7 linked regions of the Homo sapiens genome follow. The protein of the gene in region 3 purifies or fractionates together with the protein of the main gene of each other region. This does not show direct contact. Each region holds a gene or a part of one and is shown on either strand. Other genes may lie near its edges. The genes, in order: PRKAR2B, TXK, ANO4, QSER1, GJC1, MIA3 and DNAJC18.

The links.
Region 1: the proteins of ANO4 (region 3) and PRKAR2B fractionate together in Homo sapiens (co-fractionation; one large-scale study listed by BioGRID). This does not show direct contact.
Region 2: the proteins of ANO4 (region 3) and TXK fractionate together in Homo sapiens (co-fractionation; one large-scale study listed by BioGRID). This does not show direct contact.
Region 4: the proteins of ANO4 (region 3) and QSER1 fractionate together in Homo sapiens (co-fractionation; one large-scale study listed by BioGRID). This does not show direct contact.
Region 5: the proteins of ANO4 (region 3) and GJC1 fractionate together in Homo sapiens (co-fractionation; one large-scale study listed by BioGRID). This does not show direct contact.
Region 6: the proteins of ANO4 (region 3) and MIA3 purify together in Homo sapiens (affinity purification with mass spectrometry; one large-scale study listed by BioGRID and IntAct). This does not show direct contact.
Region 7: the proteins of ANO4 (region 3) and DNAJC18 purify together in Homo sapiens (affinity purification with mass spectrometry; one large-scale study listed by BioGRID and IntAct). This does not show direct contact.

The regions. Positions count from the first base shown.
Region 1 is NC_000007.14:107,152,705-107,156,204, reverse strand, and holds part of PRKAR2B (cAMP-dependent protein kinase type II-beta regulatory subunit), read right to left. Parts: intron 3,029-3,500; coding exon 2,954-3,028; intron 1-2,953. UniProt on the Homo sapiens protein: Regulatory subunit of the cAMP-dependent protein kinases involved in cAMP signaling in cells. Type II regulatory chains mediate membrane association by binding to anchoring proteins, including the MAP2 kinase.
Region 2 is NC_000004.12:48,068,251-48,071,750, forward strand, and holds part of TXK (tyrosine-protein kinase TXK), read right to left. Parts: intron 3,425-3,500; coding exon 3,267-3,424; intron 1-3,266. UniProt on the Homo sapiens protein: Non-receptor tyrosine kinase that plays a redundant role with ITK in regulation of the adaptive immune response. Regulates the development, function and differentiation of conventional T-cells and nonconventional NKT-cells.
Region 3 is NC_000012.12:101,119,776-101,123,275, forward strand, and holds part of ANO4 (anoctamin-4), read left to right. Parts: intron 1-744; coding exon 745-850; intron 851-3,500. UniProt on the Homo sapiens protein: Has calcium-dependent phospholipid scramblase activity; scrambles phosphatidylserine, phosphatidylcholine and galactosylceramide. Does not exhibit calcium-activated chloride channel (CaCC) activity.
Region 4 is NC_000011.10:32,930,811-32,934,310, forward strand, and holds part of QSER1 (glutamine and serine-rich protein 1), read left to right. Parts: intron 1-932; coding exon 933-3,500. UniProt on the Homo sapiens protein: Plays an essential role in the protection and maintenance of transcriptional and developmental programs.
Region 5 is NC_000017.11:44,823,788-44,827,287, forward strand, and holds part of GJC1 (gap junction gamma-1 protein), read right to left. Parts: intron 1-3,500. UniProt on the Homo sapiens protein: One gap junction consists of a cluster of closely packed pairs of transmembrane channels, the connexons, through which materials of low MW diffuse from one cell to a neighboring cell.
Region 6 is NC_000001.11:222,652,597-222,656,096, reverse strand, and holds part of MIA3 (transport and Golgi organization protein 1 homolog isoform 1 precursor), read right to left. Parts: intron 3,090-3,500; coding exon 2,967-3,089; intron 2,870-2,966; coding exon 2,758-2,869; intron 1,855-2,757; coding exon 1,799-1,854; intron 1,709-1,798; coding exon 1,618-1,708; intron 1,443-1,617; coding exon 1,304-1,442; intron 1-1,303.
Region 7 is NC_000005.10:139,409,703-139,412,614, forward strand, and holds the end of DNAJC18 (dnaJ homolog subfamily C member 18), read right to left. Parts: 3' UTR 501-2,912; downstream 1-500.

The sequences.
Region 1 (3,500 bases), on a different chromosome or scaffold from region 3:
GCCATGGAGGTTTGCTATACCTATCAACCTGTCTGGTTTTAAGCCCCGCATGCATTAGGTATCTGTCCTAATACTCTCCCTACCTTCACTCCCCACCCCCTGACAGGCCCCGGTGTGTGATGTTCCCCTCCCTGTGTCCATGTGTTCTTATTGTTCAACTCCCACTTATGAGTGAGAACATTCGGTGTTTAGTTTTCTACTCCTGTGTTAGTCTGCTGAGAATGATGGCTTCCAGCTTCATCCATGTCCTGCAAAGGACATTATCTCATTCTTTTTTATGGCTGCATAGTACTCCATGGTATATATGTACCACGTTTTCTTTATCCAGTCTATCACTGATGGGCATTTGGGTTGGTTCCATGTCTTTGTTATTGTAAATAGTGCTGCAATAAACATATGTGTGCATGTGTCTTTATAGCAGAATGATTTATATTCCTTTGGGTATATACCCAGTAATGGGTTTTCTGGGTCAAATGGTATTTCTGCCATTAAAAAGTGGGCAAAGGATATGAACGGACACTTCTCAAAAGAATCAAAAGAAGATATTTATGCAGCCAAAAAAAAAATGAAAAAAAGATCATTACTGATCATTAGAGAAATGCAAATCAAAACCATAATGAGAAACCATCTCACGCCAGTCAGAATGGCAATTATTAAAAAGTCAAGCAACGATAGATGCTGGTGAGGTTGTGGAGAAATAGGAATGCTTTTGCACTGTTGGTGGGAATGTAGATTGGTTCAACCATTTTGGAGGACAGTGTAGCAATTCCTCAGGGATCTAGAACCCGTATTTATTTATTTTTTTGTATTTTTATTAGAGATGGGGTTTCACCATGTTGGCCAGGCTGGTCTCGAACTCCTGACCTTGAAGTGATCTACCTGCCTCAGCCTCCCAAAGTGCTGGGATTACAGGCGTGAGCCACTGTGCCTGGCCTTGAAATAATATATTCTCTACCACTGTATTTCTGCTAAAAAACCAAGAAAATGTGGCAACACTGGGGTAAGAATTTCACCCAAATTTCAGCCTAGATAACAGCATACATAGTTGGAAATGGCAACACTGCTGTGTATGCCAGCAGCGTCCCCTTAGTTGGCAGAAACATGTCTGCGGATCCTGTGCTCCTGAGGAAGTGCCGAGACATGCACCCTGCGTCATCCTAACATCGCAAGCATTGGTGTGGTGACCCAAGATAAGCCATCAACTTGCAAAGAGCAGAAAGCATCCAGATGGAGCCGGAAGCAGCAGATGTGGGCCTTGACATTTTCACTACAGTCAACTGAGGACCAAACTCTGACATGCTAGCCTACTGACATTCCATTTCAAGGCTTTGGAAGGACTTCTAAAAGAAAAGTGTTGCTCTACCCATATACCTGTTCTTTCTTGCTTTTGTTTCTTAATGAACTCTGCCTTGATCTCCAATGATGCAGTCTGAATTAAACAATACAATATGGAAGATAATAATACAGACACTGACTTCTCTAAGCCTCTCAAAGTGATTCTGGAGAAACTTAAAATATTTCAAAACTCCTTAATACAAATTCAAGAAGTTTAGCATCTGATTCTATCACAAAAATAAATGTTGAATTTAGATTTTTAGAATATAGGGTGTATATGTATATTTATAAATGCTTAAAAGACAACAAATATGTAAGAATATCCTTAATAAACCCTAAGTATAGCATATCTCCTTTCCCTTATTCTTGTATCAGGTTTTCATAAAAGCTTCATATTAAGTTTTCGAGTGTTCTGAATCATAATAGGTCTATTAACTGCTGAGTAATTTTTAACTATTTTTAAAGCACGCTCTAAGTGTATGTAAAACTGGTGAAAACTGAATATGGTCTGTGAATTATGCCAATGTCATTTTCCTAGTTTTGATATTGTTATTAACAGTGATGCAAAACGCATTAGGAGAAACTGGGTGAAGAGTACACGGGACCTCTCAAAACTATTTTTGCAACTTCCTGTGAATCTATAATTATTTCAAAATAAAACCTTAAAAAATCATTTAAAACATGCTCTTTGCTTTGTTATTTACTAGTTTATACAGTAGAACTTTAACCTTGCTTGACTCCATTTCTTCCCAATCCCTGACTGCTCTAACACACACATACACACACACACACTCAGCAATGGGAGAGGGGTGTTGATCGAAAGATTTACTTATGTATTTGTCTTCTAAAACAATTCTTTTTCTCAGTCTCAAAGACCTTGAATCTTGTTTCCCATATAAAGGAAAAGACTGCATTTCAGATAAAGAGCACAAAACAGTATAAGGCTGTGATACAAAAATTACAGAATCTATTAAAAATCCATTTTAATCATTTGCTTAGTGCTTCAAAAATATAACTAGGAAACAAGGTACTATCATCTGCATGCTTTACCTGTGAACTTCAACAGTCTTCACAAATTCTACTTTTGGTAGCCCTACTCCAACCCAGGTATCTAATATTATTGGTTCCAGCTGGGATCTTAGAAAAGTATTAGGGATTAAATAACATGTTGACCCACATGTAGTCTTGGAAGCCAAAACAGTATATGTTGCAGTGTGTTCCTTTCTTGGTGAATTTTATCAAGGAGCAGCCTCAGGAATTTTCATCATGAACTGATCATGCAAAACTCTATAGAATTTTCCAGTGTACTTTCTGGGTCCTCATTAATGTCATGGAACATTCACCTGTTTTTTCCTCTTATAAATGACTACAATGATGCAGAAAACCATTTGATGGTTTAATACACCTTCATTAGGAGTTAATTACATAAACAAAAATATTCAATAGAGTAATGACTATAAATGAAACCATTTTTAACAGGTCATTTGGTAGAAGTAATATTTATTTAACCCATCACTGCATACTAATTTTAGAAATATGAAAAGTTTATCAAGATCTACCACTACAGGAACCTTTTGGAATATAACCCTAAACTGAATTACATTTCAAAATATCATACCTGAGCAATGATTTGTTCTCCATCGTTGTATACTTTGGTGCCTATCACATCTACTACTTTCAGGCGTTCAGAAAACTACAAAGAAAGAAAAACAATATTAAATAGAAACAAATTAACTGGGTAAGCTTATCTAGTTCGGGAGTAAAAAACTGGTAGCCTATAGGCCAAATAAATCGAGCAGTGTGTAGGTTGTATATGTGTTTGTTGTATTAATTACCAGCCAGCATTTTAAAATAATTTTTCATAAAAATTCAATCTCCAGCTTCTCTTGAAAAATCAGCATCACATAGCCCATATTTCCACATGGCAACAATAAAACTATGGTGGGATAGCAGCTGTTTCTTTAATGAAATACATGTTCTCCAATCTGCCAAAGTCCCTTCCTGGCTTGGTTTTCTTCTCTGTGTTACCTGCCTAGCTCTGAAGGCACCAGATTTCCAATCCCTGACCTACTCTTATTTAAAGAAATATGCTGCTGGAAAAGATCAGCTGTCTACCACGCACTGTGTGATGTGGACAAAATTTTTACCAGATGTAAGCTGATAAT
Region 2 (3,500 bases), on a different chromosome or scaffold from region 3:
CCCTAGAGATATATTTGAATGACTTGACATGTGTGAGGTAAAGAAAGGGCTGGGAGAAGGGGCATCTAGCATACCAGGCTCCCAAGCTCAGTTCAGGGTATCTATGACACCTGAGCCATTATAGAAAGGAGGATTTCAGTCAGAAAGCAAAAGGCATGTTTTCATGAGGGACTTTGAAGGTCTTGGGGCACAGGTTGTGCTTTCAGTCTCAGTCAACAGAAAAATAAGAGTGTGGAAGTCCCTCTCACACATAGAAAAATGATTGCTGAATATTCTTACATTTTAAAAAGTTTTAAAAGCCTGTGATCTTTGCACAGTTTTTGAGTCAGCAACTCTAAAGGAAGATATTCACCATAAGTGACCCCATATCCCTGGTCATGGAGCCAAGGATTGGAGCATTTTTTCCTACTTCACTTAGGGGTGTGGTTTAGCTCTGATTCCAAGAGGAAGAAGAGATGGCACTGTCAGCATCTTTTAAAACCATGGGAAACAGAGCTACTCATAGTAGCCACATTCTCACAGGGGTCATTGACAGTAGGGTCAGCGGAAAGACACCCCTCTTCATGGCTTATAAACAGAGAGCATCAGTAAAATAAACAGAGCAGAAGACAGCACAAGTGCAAGTGAGGGTCCTTATTGAGACTCTGGGCATAAATTGTGGAGCTCTGTGAGGAGCCTGTTTCTGCGCATGAATCCTGAAATTTGTCTCTCAAAGATAGCATAATCACGTTTGACTCTAATGCCCTAAGCACATGGGGTAAAGCTGTAGGCAATATCAACTTTTGCACCTGACATAATGACTCACATCTGTAATCCCAGCACTTTGGGAGGCCAAGGTAGGAGGACTGCTTGAGGCCTGGGCAACAAAGTGAGACCCCATCTCTAGAAAAAATTTTAAAAAATTAGCTGGTCATGGTGGCACATCACTGTAGTCCCAGCTATTCAGGAGGCTGAGCTGGGCGGATTGCGTAAGCCCAGGAGGTCAAGGCTGCAGTGAGATGTGATTGTGCCACTGCACTGTAGTCTGGGAAACAGAGCAAGACTCTGTCTCAAAAATAAATCAATCTTTTCTTTTCTTTTTTTTTTTTTTTTTTTGAGACAGTCTGGCCCAGTCACCCAGGCTGGAGTGCAATGGTGGGATCTTGGCTCACTGCAACCTCTGCCTCCCAGGTTCAAACAATTCTCCTGCCTCAGCCTCCTGAGTAGCTGGGATTACAGGTGCCCGCCACCATGCCCAGCTAATTTTTTTGTATTTTTAGTAGAGACGGGGTTTCACCATGTTAGCCAGGCTGGTCTCGAACTCCCAGCCTCGTGATTCGCCCACCTCAGCCTCCCAAAGTGCTGGGATTACAAGCATGAGCCACCACACCCGGCCAAATCAACTTTTTCAAACAAATAAATCGACATAACCACACCATTGTATTAATCAATGTTCTGATTGCAATTTGAGACAAATGTTGTTTACATGGTCCTTCTGACAGCATCCTACTTATCACTTCCCTTCCTCCTTCTATGTCTCAGTTCCACTTACATATAACATCTCAATAAGCATTATATTACACACACACGTGTGTATTATTTCATACACAACATATACTTCTGAGCTACTTACATTGTTATTGCAAAGATGCTCCTAAAACGGCTGCTTATTACTACTCACTGAACATTTTTCTGAACATTTTTTTCTTACAGCTTGCTGAGCATTTTTCTATGTCTTTCAAGATTCCTTGTAAAGTAGTTAATATATGTAAAATATTTTCATACATTGGGGCTCTCTATAAATGTAATGCTTTTGGAATATGAATAACCACATCACTCTTAAAATATTCAATATTCTAGTGTTTGTGGATTGATAATCAAGTGCTTTATTTTTTCAGCCAGGAGGAAACTTCTCATCAAGCTGCAATTTCCAGCTGAAACTGTCAGCTGGAAAGAGACCAAAGCTCTCAAAATCAAAGGGAATTTCACTGAGAAGGGCAGGGGTGTGTTGAGTCAGTGCCCAGAGGTGGAAAAGAAGCCCCTCTGGCTTTATTTCTAAGCTTGGCATTTCAACAAATAGAAAAACTAAGTTCTGGAGAGATTTCTTCCTGAGTGGAAGTTCCTGACACACTTTCTGCCTCCATTCCTATTCTAGTTTAATCTGTAGCAGGAGTCCTGACTGCCAGAAGACAGATGAAACCCATTACTATTAGCGTTGGAAAAGCAAGACAAAGCAAAGTTGAGTGAAGTAAATGGAAACACCATCTTTCTTTTTCAACCTGGAAATTTAACAAGCCTGGTTCTACCCTTAGTTTCCACCATTAATTCTTTTATTTATTTGCTTATTTATTTATTTATTTATTTTTTGAGACAGAGTCTTGTTCTGTTGTCCAGGCTGGAGTGTAGTGGCGCAATCTCAGCTCACTGTAGCCTTTGCCTCCTGGGTTCGAGCAATTCTCCTATCTCCGCCTCCCAAGTAGCTGGAATTACAGGCATGCACCACCAGGCCTGGCTAATTTTTGTATTTTTAGTAGAGACAGGGTTTCACCATGTTGGCCAGGCTGGTCTCAAACTCCTGACCTCAAGTGATCTGGCCACCTCGGCCTCCCAAAGTGCTGGGGTTACAGGCGTGAGCCACCACACACAGCCTCCATCATTTAATTCTTTTTTTTTTTTTTTTTTTTTTTGAGATGGAGTCTCACTCTGTCGCCCAGGCTGGAGTGCAGTGGCGCCATCTCGGCTCACTGCAAGCTCCGCCTCCCAGGTTCAAGATTCTTCTCCTGCTTCAGCATCCCCAGTAGCTGGGATTACAGGCATGCACCACCACGCCCGGCTAATTTTTGTATTTTTAGTAGAGATGGGGTTTTACCACGTTGGCTGGGCTGGTCTCAAACTCCTGACCTCAGGTGATCCACCCGCCTCGGCCTCCCAAAGTGCTGAGATTACAGGCATGAGTCACTGCGCCCGGCCCATTAATTCTTAAAGCTAATAAAACATCTAATCACTGAGGCTTGAGTAACACCAAGAGTTTCTGCAAGAACCAATCTCAAACAGATAAGACTCAGAAAATGCACTGAATTCCTCAGATAAAAGGCCATTGTTCAAAACAAAATGGATTCATGACTTTGTAGTGAGTTTGAGATAGTACTTCAGACTCTCAGGATCATGACCAAGACACAGATGCCTTTTCCTGCCATGACAGAGTTCTGAAGTAATGTTTGTGATAATCAGGTCTGCTCTCAGATGCTGGGACTGCCAACCTTCATAGGAAAGTAACATATGCTTACCTCATGCCAGCAGCTGTACATGACTTCATATATGGACATTGGTGCCAGGTGAGGGCGATATAGCCTGAAGCCTTCAGAAATAGCTTCCACGACTTGCAAATTTGACTTATTTTCAAAAGGCATTTTTCCTTCTGTAAAAACTTCCCACATTAAAACTCCTGCAAACAAAAATGCAGGAAAACAAGGGGTTAGAGAGAAATGATTGCTTGGGAACTGAAAGAACAATTTCAAACT
Region 3 (3,500 bases):
TTTTAGTTCTTGGGCTTCATAGTGGATTTATGAGAGCTTGTTGTATTATTAAAGTATTACTTTAATGGAGTCACATGGATTAAAGTTCTCTGAATAGTGCCTGGTCCCCAACAGGTATTCGGCAAACATTTGTGGCATTTTATGCCGACTCAAAAGTGATAGCTGGAGGATACATTAGGAAGGACTCTTCTAGTGGCAAGTGGCAGAAATCCAGGGTAAACTGACTTAAACAACAAAAAATTGTTCAGTTAGCTGGGAGAGTCAAGGGGTGATATGAGCTTCAGTAATGGCCGGATCCCAGGCCTCAAGCAGTGTCAGCAGGATGCTGCCTCTCTGCTGTCTCTGCTTTGTTTTCTTGACTTCCTTCTCAAGCAGGCTCTCTCTCTCCATACAAGGCCACCAGGAGTCCCAGGCTTTTGCCTTCTGTGGGCTTAGTGATCATTCACTAAGTGATAGTTCTGGCAGACATCTTGATGATGTCACTGATCAGGTCTGGCTCATCTTTTGAGCTGAGATCAGGCAGGTGGAGGGGGAAGTCCTAGTCAACCCACACAGATGATTCCCCAGAGAAGAGATATTATTTTATCAGAAGAAAAATGCTGGACAAGCAAAACAACAGATATCTAGTATAGAGAAACTTCAAATTTCCCTCCTATTGAATGAGGACTATATAATGAGAATGGAAGAGATTTGAGAATCAGAAAAATCATAGTTTGAATGCAACATTTTTCTGTGTCTTTATAGATACCGGGACTACCGTGACCCGCCTCATTCACTGGTGCCCTATGGCTACACACTGCAGTTTTGGCATGTCCTAGCTGCTCGATTAGCTTTTATCATTGTCTTTGAGGTAAGTTTCCTCAGCCAAATTCTTTATTTCCTTTGACATAATGAAGTCAGTAGGAGTAATGAATAAAAATAAGTGATGGGGATTTTGAATGTGATTATCTATATTTCCAGAAGTAGTAGTGTCATATTATGTAACCTCTTTTTGATCTTTTTTCTTAATTGAAGTATTTGATTTTTCCAAGACATATTTGAAAGTCCATAGTTGGTTTTTAATGGACAAATCTGAACTCGTTGCTCCTAAATGTAATTTTCTGGGGCCATAGTTCTTAAACTTTAGCAAAAATGCAGTTTTTCCATCCTCACTCCCAGATATTCTGACATACCATGTCTGTGGCTTGTTTTTCATGAGCTCGTTGTAATGATTCTGACTATAGGCATTCTGGGACCATAATTTGGAAACATTTGGAAAACATCAGCCCAGTAAGATTCATTCTTTTTTTCTTTTTCTTTTTCAACTTTTATTTTAGATACAGTGGGTACATGTGCAAGTTTGTTACAAAGTTACATTGCATGATGTTGAGGTTTGGGGTGCGACTGAACCCACCACCCAGGTAGCGAGCATAGTATTCAATAGGTAGTTATTCAGCCCTTGTCCCCTCCCCCTCTCCCCTCTATAGTAGTCCCCAGTGTCTGTTGTTCTCATCTTTATGTCCATGTGTACCCAGTGTTTAGCTTCCACTCTAAGTACGTACAATAAGAACTTGCAGTGTTTAGTTTTCAGTTTCTACATTATTTCACTTAAGATAATGGCCTCCAGCTACATCCATGTTGCTGCAAAGGACATGGTTTCATTCTTTTTTATGGCCACATAGTATTCCATGGTGTATACATACCACATTTTCTCTATCTGGTCCACCATTGATGGGCACCCAGGTTGATTCCATGTCTTTGCTATTGTGAATAGTCCTGTGATTGACATATGAGTACATGTGTCTTTTTGGTAGAATGCTTTATTTTCTTTTGAGTATATACCCAGAAATGGGATTGCTGGGTTGAATGGTAGTTAAGCCCTTTGTTCTTTGAGAAATCTCCAGACTACACAGTAGTTGGACTAATTTACCTTTCCACCAACAGTGTGCAGGTGTCCCCTTTTCTCTGAAGCCTCGCCAGCATCTGTTAATTTGTTTACTTTTTTTTTTTTTTTTTTTTTTTTTTTAAGACTGATTCTCTCTCTGTCGCCCAGGCTGGAGTGCAATGGCACAATCTCGGCTCACTGCAACCTCTGCCTCCCAGGTTCAAGTAATTCTCTGCCTCAGCCTCCTGAGTAGGTGGGATTACAGGCACCCGCTACCACACCTGGCTAATTTTTGTATTTTTAGTGGAGACGGGGTTTCACTGTCTTGGCCAGGCTGGTCTTAACCTGACCTCATGATCCATCCGCCTTGGCCTCCCAAAGTGCTGGGATTACAGGCGTGAGCCACTGCACTTGGCCTGACTTTCTAATAAAAGCCGTACTGACTGGTGTGAGATGGTGTCTCATTGTGGTTTTGATTTGCATTTCTCTAATTTCCTTAGAGATTCTGAGCATTTTTTCATATTATTGTTGTCTGCTTCTATATCTTCTTTTGAGAAGTATCTGTTTGTGTCCTTTGACCACTTTTTAATGGGGTTATTTGTTTTTTACATGTTGATTTGTTTAAGTTCCTTACAGATTCTGGGTATTAGACCTTTATTGGGTGCATAGTTTGCAAATATTTTCTCCCATTCTGTACGGTGTCTGTTTACTTCTTTGACAGTTTCTCTTGCTGTGCAGAAGCTCTTTAATTAGATTTGACTTAGCAATTTTTGTTTTTGTTGCAATTGCTTTTCAGGACTTCACCATAAATTCTTTGCCCAGGCCAGTATTGAGAAGGGTATTTCCTAGGTTTTCTTCTAGCATTTTTATAGTTGAGGTCTTACATGTAAGTCTTTAATTCATCTTGAGTTAAATTTTGTTTATGATGATAGGTAGAAGTCCAGTTTCATTCTTCTGCATATGGATAGCCAGTTATCTCAGCACCATTTATTGAACAAGGAATCCTTCCCCCACTGCTTGTTTTTGTCAAGTTGGAGATTCACTCTTTCTAAATGTCTCCAATTATTGCCATCATCATTACCACACATATTGAAATATACTGATTCATATAGTTAATTTATGATTTTCAAATAGTTATCAGGATTTCCCAACATGATCATAAGCATTTTCCAATAGGACTGGGTATTACAAGTGGTATTTCTGGTTGTGTATCATCACGGAATTATTTATATTCAAGCATCCAAGTAAGTATTTATTAGCTAAGACTCAAAATGGAATTATAAAGTAAAATCTGTCTAGCAATTGTCTATATTATATGTCAATAAAAATATATTATCTATTTTCTTTCAGGGTTTAAGAAAATTGCTGTAAAAATAGTTTGCATTTCTATGACTCTAGTCATAAGTGGAAATTTCATCTCTTGTCACATATATTAAAGCCAGATTAATAAAAGCCAAGGTTGCCTCTCGGCTTGGATCTAAAGTTTCCTAGACCTCTTCAAGACTATTCTATCACTGCTTTTTCCTTCAGTCCAGGGAACCAAAAGAAGAAAATATTAAGCTGCTCTTCCCTGGAAATTATCTTACCAATGGCACACTCTCTCTTTAAAGAAGATATTTTTAACCCATCACTGTCT
Region 4 (3,500 bases), on a different chromosome or scaffold from region 3:
CAGATCACAAGGGTAAACCCATTTTTACTTTTGCTATATGTGGCTAAAATGCTGTCCTGAAATGTTAACAGTCTCTTTCTGACAGTACTTTGTTAATTTCTGATCAACTTTTCATGATAAACATGCATCTATTATGATTGGGAAGTTGTTCATAGGAAGTGAAAGCTTGAAATGCAAGAGATTTTTAAAGTGAATATATTTTGGTAAAAGAAACTGCAGTTCACTGTTTTTTTATATTTATTTATCATGTTAGATGTAGGCAATTTAGCTTTTTTTTTTCCATTTTAATGTTATGTACATTTTGGTTTGTCCATTGGTATTTTGTGTTGGTACTTTGGGATAAATTAATCACTAGAGATATGTACATTTTTACTGATTTCTTCATTTTCCTATGACCTTATCAAACTATATATAAATTATATAACAATTACAGATATGAATTGCTGATATCATTGTAACTTCATTTTTACTCTATGAAAACTAGCTAATCCAGGCGTGGTGGCTTGCACCTATAATCCCATCACTTTGGTAGACCGAGATAGGAGGATCACTTGAGCCCAGGAGTTCAAGATAGCCTGAGCAACATTGCAAGACCCCATCTCTACAAAAATTTAAAAATTAGCCAGGTTTGGGAGTATGCGCCTGTAGTCTCAGCTACTTGGGACACTGCGGCTGCAGTGAGCTATGATCGCAAGACTGCACTCTAGCCTGGGCAACAGAGTAAGACCCTGTCTCTTAAAAAAAAAAGAAAAGAAAGAAAGAAGCTAGCTATTTTGAAATGTAATTTTCAAAATTTACATGCAGAACTAACTGGTCAGGTTTTTCAGTCTTAAGACATTTTGATGAGTTGAGGGTTATGTAAGTCATTACTATGAAAACATAAAGTAATTGTGCCATAATTACATAAAAATCTTTGTGCCTTTTCTTCATAGGCATGCATTCCTCAGCAGCAACTGAGCTGTTTGCTACTGGACCTTTGCCAAGCACTGGAACACTTCCACCATCTCTCTCTGCTTATCAGCATCCCACCACCTTCAGCAATAGAAACTTTGCTACCACTTCACCTTTGGTGCTTCAGGATTCAACTTTTAACACTACATCAAATGGAATTTTAAGTCATCATGACCCTTTGCTACAAATCAAGACTTCCCAGGGAACTGTTCCAACTGCTTTGGCATTTGAGCGCCTGGGCAGTTCTGTATTAAGTAACAGCATACCACCTCAGTCTTCAACATACCGCTCAGCTCAAGAGTCTGCACCCCATCTTTTACAACCTCAATTTAGTTTGTTGCCTTCAGCACTTGGGGGATCCCAGCAGACTCCTCAAGCCTACAGTTCAACTCTCTTTACTAGTTCTACTGCTTCCATTGAAAGAGCTCTTCTTCGAGAATGTAGTGTTATTAAACACCATCAGCGGCCTTCAGGTACCCAGTCAATTCAGGCACAACTGACTGGTTCACAGCACTCCTTACATAGTTATCTATCAAATTCAAGTGTAGTTAATTTTCAGGAAACAACCAGGCAGTCATCTTTATCCTGTAGCCCAATTGGAGATTCCACTCAGGTGAGCAACGGAGGATTACAACAGAAGACCTCCCAGGTCTCAGTGGAACTTGCTCAGTCTTACTCATCTGCGATTCCATCATCAGGGTATCCTCCTTCTACTACAAAAATAAAAAGCTGTTCTACAGAACAACCACTGACATCAACCAAGACCCCTAAACCTCAAAGTATAATTCCTCCTGTGCAAACACTAAGCTATTCCAAACCTTTACATAATCAGAGTTCTGTAATATCGGGCCAAGCACAAATTTATTCTACAGCGCAGCTACCAAGCCTTTTATCAGTTAGTCAGTCCCAAAATTACGGTTTAGTACAGCCACATAATGTGCCATCTATTGTTCATTCACAGGTTTATAGGTCCAGCAAGGTTGAGAAATTGCCACCCTTGTATAAAACATTGACTTTTTCTGGGTCATCTCAGACTGTAACTCCTGAAAATCAGACGCTTAATTATTCATCTAATCAGCAAGAGGTATTGTCTTCAGTTACAAATGAGAATTACCCTGCTCAAACAAGAGATCTGTCTTCAGTAAGTCAGTCTCAAAGTTACTCATCTGGTCACTCTCAGGGTTTATCACCAGTTAGCCAGACACAGGTTAGCTATTCATCTCAATCACAAGTTTTGTCAGTTGTTAGTCTTTCAGAAAGCTATGCTTCAGGGGAGTCCCTAACATTAACAGCCCCTTCTCTTTCTTATTCTTCTGCCTCTCGGGCTCAGAATTTGCCAGACTCTAGCCCGACCCAGAATTATATTTCTATGCATTCTTCCCAAAATGTTCAGACTCAAGAGTCATCATCTCCCCAGTCCCAGAAGTTTTTGCCTGCTGTCCAGTCATCATCTTTTGCATCCTCTACTCATTGTCAGACATTACAAAATAACATAACTTCCCCTGACCCAAAGTCTTATGCTGAAAGAAAGCTTGACTCAGATGTGTATCCATCTTCAAAGCAAGAAGATGGTTTTCCAATGCAAGAGTTACAGGTGTTGCAGCCACAAGCATCTCTTGAGTCATCAACCCAAAGGCTATCTGATGGAGAAATTAATGCTCAAGAATCAACTTATAAGGTGTCAAAGGCAGATGACAGATATTCTCAGAGTGTAATCAGAAGTAATTCCCGTCTTGAAGATCAAGTTATTGGGGTTGCTCTGCAAGCATCAAAAAAAGAAGAAAGTGTTGTTGGTTCAGTGACACAACTTAACCAACAAATTGGCCAAGTCAATAATGCAGCTACCCTTGATCTTAAGAACTCAACTAATTTAATACAGACTCCACAAATAAGGTTGAATACTAAAGACTTAAAGCAGCAACATCCTCTCATACTTAAGGTGCATGAGTCCAAGGTCCAGGAACAGCACGATCAAATAATTAATGCTTCATCTCAGATTCAAATTCCAAATCATGCTTTAGGGCATGGCCATCAGGCATCTCTTCCTAATACACAGGTCCTTTTAGATTCTGCCTGTGATTTACAAATTCTTCAGCAGTCAATACTGCAGGCAGGTTTAGGTCAAGTAAAGGCATCTTTACAAGCACAGCGTGTTCAAAGCCCTCAACAAATAGTACATCCCTTCCTTCAGATGGAAGGTCATGTTATTCAAAGCAATGGTGATCATTCTCAGCAGCAACTCCATCCTCAAAATTCTGAAGTTATGAAAATGGACCTCTCTGAGTCTTCAAAACCATTACAACAACATCTAACAACAAAGGGCCATTTTAGTGAAACAAATCAACATGATTCAAAGAATCAGTTTGTTTCTCTTGGATCGATGTGTTTCCCAGAGGCAGTGCTTCTTAGTGATGAAAGAAATATTTTATCAAATGTAGATGATATCTTAGCAGCTACAGCAGCAGCTTGTGGAGTTACACCTACTGATTTTTCCAAGTCAACTTCAAATGAAACCATGCAGGCTGTTGAAGATGGTGATTCTAAATCTC
Region 5 (3,500 bases), on a different chromosome or scaffold from region 3:
TGCAACCTCTGCCTCCCAGGTTCAAGCGATTCTCCTGCCGCAGCCTCCTAAGTAGCTGGGACTACTGGCGTGTGCCACCACACCTGGCTAATTTTTTGTATTTTTAGTAGAGACGGGGTTTCACGGTGTTAGCCAGGATGGTCTCGATCTCCTGATCTCATGACCTGCCCACCTCGGCCTCCCAAAGTGATGGGATTACAAGGCGTGAGTCACTGTGCCTGGCCCTCTTTTCGTTTTTTGAGATGGAGTCTTGCTCTGTTGCCAGGCTGGAGTGCAGCGGCACAATCTCAGCTCACTGCAACCTCCACCTCCCGGGTTCAAGCGATTCCCCTGCCTCAGCCTCCAGAGTAGTTGGGATTACAGGCGCGCGCCACCATGCCCGGCTAATTTTTTGTATTTTAGTAGAGATAGGGTTTCACCATGTTGGCCAGGATGGTCTCGAACTCCTGACCTTGTGACCTGCCTGCCTCGGCCTACCAAAGTGCTGGGATTACAGGTGTGAGCCACCGCACCCGGCCTCTTTTTTCAAATAGAGACTGTCCCACTCTGTTGACCAGGGTGGAGTGCATGGTGTGATCACAACTCACTGTAGCCTTCAACTTCTGGGCTCAAAAAATCCTCCTGCCTCATCCTCCTGAGTAGCTGAAACCACAGGTGTATGCCACCACATCCAGCTAATTTTCAAATTACTTTTTGCAGAGACAGGGCCCTCACTATGTTGCCCAGGGTGGTCTCAAACTCCTGGGCTCAAGGTATCCTCTAGCCTCAGCCTCCGAAAGTGCTGGGAGTACATGTGTGCCACTGCACTCCAGACTGGGTGACACAGTGAGGCTCTGTCTCAAAAATAAAATAAATAAAATAAAATCAGTCAAATTAGCCAGGCGTGGCAGCATGCGCCAGTAGTCCCAATTACTTGGGAGGCTGAGGCAGGAGAATTGCTTGAACCTGGGAGGCAGAGGTTGCAGCGAGCCGAGATCGCACCACTGCAACTCCAGCCTGGATGACAGAACAAGACTGTCTTAAAAAAAAAAAAAAAAAAATTAGTCAAGTGCAATAGTGAGAAGGGGGGGAAAGAAAGAGTCCAACTATTTTTTTTTTTTAATCAAGTGCTTATATGTTTTGGGGAAGAAAAAAAAAAAAAAAACGTTGGGATCCAGGTGCCTTGGCCTGTAATCCCCATATTTGAGAGGCCAAGAGGACTGCTTGAGCCCAGGAGTTCAAGACCAGCCTGGGCAACAAAACAAGACCCTGTCTCTTCCAAAAAAAATTTTAAAATTAACTGGGCGTGGTGGCGGTGTGGGCCTGTGGTCCCAGCTACTAGGGATGCTGTGGTGGAAGGATCGCTTGAGAGCACCACTACACTTTAGCCTGGGCTACAGAACAAGACTCTGTCTCAATTACAAAAAAAAAAAAAAAAAAAAAAAAAAAAAGGCTGGGCGCAGTGGCTCATGCCTGTAATCCCAGCACTTTGGGAGACCGAGGCAGGTGGATCACCTGAGGTCAGGAGACCAGCCTGACCAACATGGAGAAACCCTGTCTCTACCAATACAAAATTAGCTGGGCATGGTGGTGCATGCCTGTAATCCCAGCTACTTGGGAGGCTGAGGCAAGAGAATCTTGCCCAGGGGGCAGAGGTTGCGGTGAGCCGAGATTGCGCGACTGCACTCCAGCCTAGGCAACAAGAGCAAAACTCCGTCTCAAAAAAATAAAAAGGGCCAGACACAGTGGTTCGCGTCTGTAATCCCAGCACTTTGAGAGGCTGAGGCAACCTGAGGTCAGGAGTTCGAGACCAGCCTAGCCAACATGGTGAAACCCTTTCTCTACTAAAAATACAAAAATTAGCTGGGCGTGGTGGTGGACACCTATAATCCCAGCTTCTCGCAAGGCTGAGGCAAGAGAATTCCTTGAACCTGGGAGACGGAGGTTGCAGTGAGCCAAGATCGTGCCACTGCACTCCACCCTGGGTGAAAGAGTGAGACTCAGTCTCAAAAGAAAAAAAAAAAAAAAGTTGAATGACTTAATGGGCACCAGAATGCTTTTGTCCAAATTGTGCTTGTATTACAAGCATTATAGCCTCAAAGAACAAAGCTTCAACTGAGAGCTGGAGAAGAATTCATTTACCAGAATACTTCATTTCTTTCTTTTTATTTTGAGACAGAGTCTCGCTCTGTCGCCCAGGCTGGAGAGCAGTGATGCGATCTCGGCTAACTGCAACCTCCACCTCCCAGGTTCAAGCCATTTGCCTGCCTCAGCCTCCCGAGTAGCTGGGATTACAGATGACTGCCACCACGCCCAGGTAATTTTTTGTACTTTTAGTAGAAATGGGATTTCACCATGTTGGCTAGGCTGGTCTTGAACTCCTGACCTCAGGTGATCCACCCGCCTTGGCCTCCCAAAGTGCTGGGATTATAAGCATCAGCCACCACTCCTGGCCCCATTTCATTTCTTTAGAAGTAAAATGCTGGCCGGGCACGGTGGCTCACGACTGTAACCCCAGCATTTTGGGAGGCCGAGGTGGCCGGATCATGAGATCAGGAGATCGAGACCATCCTGGTTAACACGATGAAACAGTCTCTACTAAAAATACAAAAAATTAGCCGGGCATGGTGGTGGACGCCTGTAGTCCCAGCTACACAGGAGGCTGAGGCAGGAGAATGGCATGAACTCGGGAGGTGGAGCTTGTGGTGAGCAGAGATCACGCCACTGCACTCCAGCCTGGGCAATGGAGCGAGACTCCGTCTAAAAAAAAAAAAAAAAAGTAAAATGCTATCTGCAAAGAGATCATCATATCCTTGTTTTAGGAAAACTCTTTGGGCAATATATTCCACAGGTCTGAAAGATAAACCTTTATTGCCAAGGACTGCTCTCAGCCAACTACAGTACTTGTAAAATTCAAGAATGTATAACTGTATGCCAGCCAGTACTGACTAACAGGTCATTCACTCTTTAGAGTTGCAGTAAATAGCAATGCTCAAACGCCCAGCTAGTTTTTTGTATTTAAAATTATTTGTATTTAAATCTTAAAAAATATTTTTAAAAATACATTTTACTAGGTTCTTATTTCAACACAAACTGAACTCATCAGCTGTAGCAGTATGTTGAAAAACAACTGTTGCCATTCAGCTGATATTAACAGCTCAGAACTGTTTTCTATGTCTAAATTTCAGGTTAACGATATCAGCCAAAATCTATCTTCTCATACCTATTCTCAAAGGAACGGTCTTACAAAACTAATAATCTGGTCGAGTGCGGTGGCTCACACCTGTAATCCCAGCACTCTGGAAGGCAGAGGCAGGCGGATCACCTAATGTCAAGAGTTGGAGACCAGCCTGACCAACATGGTGAAACCCCGTCTCTACTAAAAAATACAAAATTAGCTGGGCATGGTGGGGCATTCCTGTAATCCCAGCTACTTGGGAGGCTGAGGCATGAGAATCACTTGAACTCGGGAGGCGGAGGTTGCAGTGAGACAAGATAGCACCGTTGCAGTGAGACAAGAT
Region 6 (3,500 bases), on a different chromosome or scaffold from region 3:
TCGGGAGACTGAGGCAGGAGAATGGCATGAACCTGGGAGGCGGAGCTTGCAGTAAGCTGAGACCACGCCACTGCACTCCAGCCTGGGCGGCAGAGTGAGACTCTGTCTCAAAAAAAAAAAAAAAAAAAAAAAAGGGAAAGAAAGTCTGGAGATACGTGATTAGCTAGGGGACTGGCATAAAAGATGACAAGGGCCTGAATTAACACAGTGACTTTAGGGGTGGACAGTAGAGTACAAACCACACATGGAGACTGAATGAATTTTGGGGAAGTTGAATAAAACACTGCCACATCAATGGGTTAACTGTATCACGAAGAAAAACAGTTGCCATTTACGTAATTCACATTACTATTGGAGGCAGAGAAGTGCTCTTTTTTAAAAAGTAATGAAATGAGGAATGTCTCTCTGAAGCAGGACAGGCATTTATTTAGAGCTGGCCTGAACAAAACCTGGAAAATCTAAACTGGCTGCCTGGTGAGCAAAGAATTAGAGAAAAAGTTAATGGTATGGTTTCAATATTTAATGGCATACAGCAGTAGCAGTCTAAGCATTTAAAAAAGTTAAATTTGCTTAGCAAGAGAGGCCTCCTCACACACTGCCATATACACCAAAGAGTAAAACATAAGAGCAAACACAAATAGCAACTGCCACAGATAACCTATTTTTAGAGAATTCAGATGTTTTTGTGGACAAAAAACTTGAACTATAAAAATATACCTCTCAAAAGGTACCTCGCTCGAAATTTGAGATATGTATTTCAGAGGATTATTATCTAAATATACACACCAAATAGTTCTACATTCAAAACTCCTAATATCTTTGCCACAATTATGTTTAGTTTGAATATTTTACTCTGTGAAGTCCAAAACTAAATGTACCTTCAATAAGTAAATTTTCCTTTTTTGAAGTTTTTATTCTACTAAAACACGTCATACAAATCCCTCAGACTGTTTAAAGGAAATTACATAATTGACCACAAAGAAAGGAAAGTGAAACAAGTGGCGGAGCCACAGACAAGGCATGGCCAGATCTTCAAAAGAGAAGCACTCCCACAGCAGCGACCGTCAGTACCAGTACACTGCTCCCCCTTAAGTGAGTTACAGGCAACAGTTTTTGACTACTGGTTAGAAAGGAAAGAAAAATGCAGCTTATGAGAAACAAAGCAGAAAGAAAGAAAGACAAATTTATACTAATTACAGATGCAAAAGAGTACAATCCTGAAAAACGATAACATTATCTATATTAGTACACATTTATTTACTGACATGACAATACAGTTAACAGTAAATGATGATAATCTTACTTTTGCAAAGCCATCTCCTTCTGCTGATAGAGCTCATTCAGAATCTCCACTTTCTGCCTCAAGGTTTTGCATTCATCTTCCAGTCCAGCTTTGGCAGCTTGTAGTGAGTTGCGGTCATCTTCCAATTTCTTTACCTGGTCTGTAAAGGATAAAACATTTGAGTTCCATATGTGTGCACAAGAACTTGAGAACTTGGTTGGGGGCTGGTGCTGAGAGAAATGAGAAGTATGAAAGCAGGAAGCCGCTCTTTATCTTTCTAATGCAATTTTGTATCTTTCCAATATATAGCAATTTCTTCTCAAGAAGCAACCTACCTTCCAGGTTACATTTAGTGGACACGGAGGCTCTTAGCTTAAGCTGTAAAAGCTTTAGATCCTCTTCAACTACCGATATTGCAGTCTGTGTCTAAAAATTGCAGAAGAGACAAGTATTCATAAAAGTGAGGCATAGTAAAAGTATTCACAGGCAATTATGGGACTCTAAAAACGATTATACCCGAGAGACATCCATCATCTGCTTAATTTGATTTTTCATCTTCTCATTCCGGTCACCTAAAAAACAAAAGGCTTTCTTTCATTGCTTTTTCTTCCCTTGCTTTTTAAATCTATATTTTCTTGATTTACCCAAAACTAAACAATTGTCATGTTCAAACATTTAAAGAACAAACAAAAACAGAAAAGGATTAGACTGACTTTTAAGAGAACTGCAAACTTAAGACTGAAAAAGTGAATTCCCATTTGTACAATAAACATGTTATACATGCCATTATTGAGCAAGAAGAAACATGTGAGATAAAGCTCTTTCTTCCATCTGGGCTTAGTGTCTTATTCAGAAAGATTCCCTCCTATTCTCCTCCAGAATCTACTACCAGGTGTGGTTTAAAACACCCACTACACAAGCAATATCCAACTTGAGAGAGGGCATCTAGAAACATTTTCCTCATCAGTAAACACTGCAACACTATAGCCTCCACTCTCATGGCCTTAGTTTATGGATCCAACCACCTCAGTACTCTCAAAACCAGTTGTGGTTTTCTTTCATGGCCTTAGTCAGTTTATGCCTCCAACCACCTCAGTACTCTTAAAACCAGTTGTGGGCCTTAAAACCACACAGCTACTGAGATGACAAGTTTTAAAATGTTATCTCCATGAAATTGAAAAACAAGTTTCTACTACTGTATGTGTCCAATACTTAGAGGTGTAAGACATGACCAGTGCAGCTCCCGTGCACCCTTCTAGTCTCAATGTGAAAACAAAGTCAGTGTTCACTGCATGCTTACTGCTACACCTCACCCTAGCAATCCACCTCTGCCCAATGCAAACAGACACACATTCAAATCCAATGTATTTACACCTCGAAAGCTTAAGAGGAAATGCAGCCAGCTGAAAAGTAGCACTGGTGCACTTAAAGACAGGAAGGCAAAAGGGGTCCATCCTCCTTGAGGCTGATCTTACCTCCCACTTCTCCATTTGCTAATTCATCTGAATCATTTCCACCTTTATTTTGACCCTCAGATTCAGATTCACACTCTAACAGATTCAACTGTGTAATGCAGTTAGTCAAAGCCTAGAAAAGAAGTAAAAGGGCATTAAGAGTCTTTCCATTTAATTCAACAGATTTGATAATTCACAAGAATTAAGCTTGTATTCATGAACGCACTTACATTAATATTATCATCCTTGTGAGTAAGAGCTACTTCCAAATCTTTCTGAGACTTCTCAAATGATTTGATTTGCTCACTGAGCTCAGCATGTAATTTACTCCAGTCTTCGATTTCCTGCTGCAACTGCAAAGTTAAAACACATGATTCCCACAGGTTAGGGCTTTTGCACTGGAGACATTAGGACCACATGAATGAGACAGGTAAATAAGGAACCATGCCTCTCCTTGGCCTATCACTATGGGCTAAGACCTTGGTTAAGTGGGAGGAGACAGTGGCCCCAACCCTCAGAGCTGTAGTGAGAACATCAGAGCTATCAAGGAAATTGATCTTGTTTATTGCATCCTTCAGAAAATTGTAGCCAATTCAAATAATTCACTTCCAGAAGGAACAGAAGGGCTCATCCTACTATCTCCCAAGTCCACACTCCTGATCATGTAACCTTCCCTTGGCTAGTGAAGCAGTAACTACTCAAAGGAGGGTTATAAAATATCTAACTCTTGGGTCTAAAAAGCCAATCTACTACCCACTCGAGGC
Region 7 (2,912 bases), on a different chromosome or scaffold from region 3:
GAGTCTTGGTGCTGGGCCTCACCTGTTCCCTGACCCCCATTCCAAAAACCCAGCCCACCTGGCTCAGAGTAAGTTCTCAATCATTGCTGAATTGAATCTCATCTCACTTTCTTTTTCAAATGAAAGCTATCATGACCAGTTAGGATCATGTAAATATCATTTACTATATTTTTAAACCAAAACTTTCCTAAATATGGGCCACTAGGACCAAAGCCAGCAAGGAACTGGGATAACACCTGAATTTCTGATGCTAAGTGTAGTTTTGATCTGTATATTGGCTGTGAGGTACTGCAGCTGCTGTTATCTGATAGAAAATGTGGAACTGATGCCAACAATGCTATCTACTATTCTAAATGCAAATAATCCCACTGACGGGTGAGGGAAGACTGGAGCAGGCGTCAAAAGCTTCTTTAGTCGGAAGTGGCTCCAAGGGAGTCAGGCGATGTGCAGTGGCCAAGGATGCCATGGGCAAAGGTAAAAGAACCAAGGAAAAGTAGCCATTCTTTTAATATAAAATTGTTTAATGTTTTTCTTTGTTGCAGTACACTCAATCCAGATGTAGTGGATGAGGTGGCCAGATTTTTTCAAGATTCTTAGTCCACCAGGAGCTGATTCCATTTGTGTCATCCCTACTCTGGTCACAGAACATTCACATCTTTAATTCCAAATACTGAGCGTGATGTAAATGATGTAATCAGTATCTAACACGAGTATATACTTTCTTGGTGGCCACTGCATGACATATCAACAGTGCAGCCTCAAAAAAAAGATGTTTTGTAACTTGGCCCTTTCCAAAAATAAATATATTAGGACACTAAGCTTATACCTTAAATGAGGGCAGAATAAATATGAATGAAGTGCAAGCTCCTGTGAGGAGCAGTGCATGCAGATGATGTACTTGCTTGTATGGTGTGGCCAGCTGTAACAGAAAGCCACTGGAACGGCACAGTGCCTCCTCACAAAGCCCATCCTGGGTATCATGAGGAAAAAGAATGACACATAGCTTGGCCAGGCTGCTGGAACCCATGTTCCAGTGGCATCTGGAGTTCACTGTATTTTCTTTTTTCTTTCTTTTTTTTTTTTTGAGACAGAGTCTTGCTCTGTCACCCAGGCTGGAGTGCAATGATGTGATCTCAGCTTACTGCAACCTCTGCCTCCCAGGCTCAAGAGATTCTTCTGCCTCAGCCTCCTGAGGAGCTGGGATTACAGACACGTGCTACCATGCCCGCCTAATTTTTGTATTTTTAGTACAGACAGGGTTTCACCATGTTGGCCAGGCTGGTCTGGAACTCCTGACCTCAAATGATCTGCCTGCCTCAGCCTTTCAAAGTGCTGGGATTACAGGCATGAGCTACTGGGCCTGGCCAGTTCACTGTATTTTCGAACAATTTCCAACAGAAAGCACAGCAGTGACGTTTCCTTACTGGTCACTGCTCCCGTGCTGTGAGGCCTGGAGCTGATCAAGGAAGCTTACACATTTCCCGGCCTGAGCAGATGAACTCTAGGGTTGCTAATCTGGGGACGTGGGTTCCTTCAAGCTCTTTGTGATGAGAAGGATTTTCATCCTCCTTTTCTCACTGCCGATCGTGCGGTAGAGAGAGCATCTTCATTTGAATGAGAGCTTCAGTTTCTGCTTGAGCCTCAAGCCCTATTTCTGAGCGCTGCTCCTCTCACACACGTCTCCAATCTGCAGTAATGCTCAAAGAAACAGTCTAGAGCTGGGTGCCAAGCTCCGGCAGCAAGAATAAGCCCTACCTAGTTATGTATGATCAGGAGATCTTCCAAAGGACGTAGGCGAGAGGAAAAAGCTTATTTTACCACCATGCAGACAACCCATCTAAAATATAACCCAGGAAATTATAGCTTCACAATATTCTGGATAGTATCAAATAGATAAATCCTTCAACCAAAAGCAAATACGGTTCCCTTGAGGAAAAACAGATGTGAATGTTGTGGTCTATTGGCAATAAATAAAACAGTACCATCGGTGCTATAAAAACAGACAATCAGCGTGACATTTAATGGAGTTAGTTATTATTGCTTCTATTTAGTATCATCACAGATTACTTATCGCTGCCATGAAGTCCATAAAATGTGTGACTACCTGATTCCTGGGCATCTAGGACAGGGTCTTTTAACCTGTCAAGTCAGTTTCATTATGGCCAATTTTCTAGCAGTGGTTGGGGATGGGGAGAGGAGAGCTTTGATTTTTTTGTGTGTAGAAGAACTTTCCATAAGCCTGTTTGGCTCATGGACATATTTTACAATGTAACCTCCCTCAGTCACTCAGAGGGGATCAAGAAGGGCCCCCTAAAACCAGGAGGACAGATCTAGTTGGGCAGCAAAATCTGGCTATTTCTAGAAATGCTCCCTCTCCCTGCAACTGAGCAGTTGTCCCCTACAAGCCACTAAAGCCCCCAATCTTTACCTGTGAACCCATCTCCTGACTCTGTGGAATGCCTGCAGAGGCATGGTAGGGAACAACCGTTCAGATGTTGATGAGCCATGCTAGGCACGTCTGTGTAAATCATGGCCATGCATTGGGATGAAGAAACTTTACTTTGGAATCTGTTTAATGTAGACTCTTTTTTTTTTTGAGATGGAGTGGAGTGCAGTGGCGTGATTTCAGCTCACTGTAACCTCCACCTTGCAAGTTGCAGCGATTCTCATGCCTCAGCCTCCCGAGTAGCTGGGACTACAGGCATGTGCCACCACACCTGGCTAATTTTTGTATTATTAGTAGAGATGGGGTTTCACTGTGTTGGCCAGGCTGGTCTTGAACTCCTGACCTCAGGTGATCCACCTGCCACAGCCTCCCAAAGTGCTGGGATTACAGGCTTGAGCCAGTGCACCCGGCCGACTCTCTACCAGAAACTTTTCTTCCAATATGAAGGAAGCATGGAGTGTAGGCT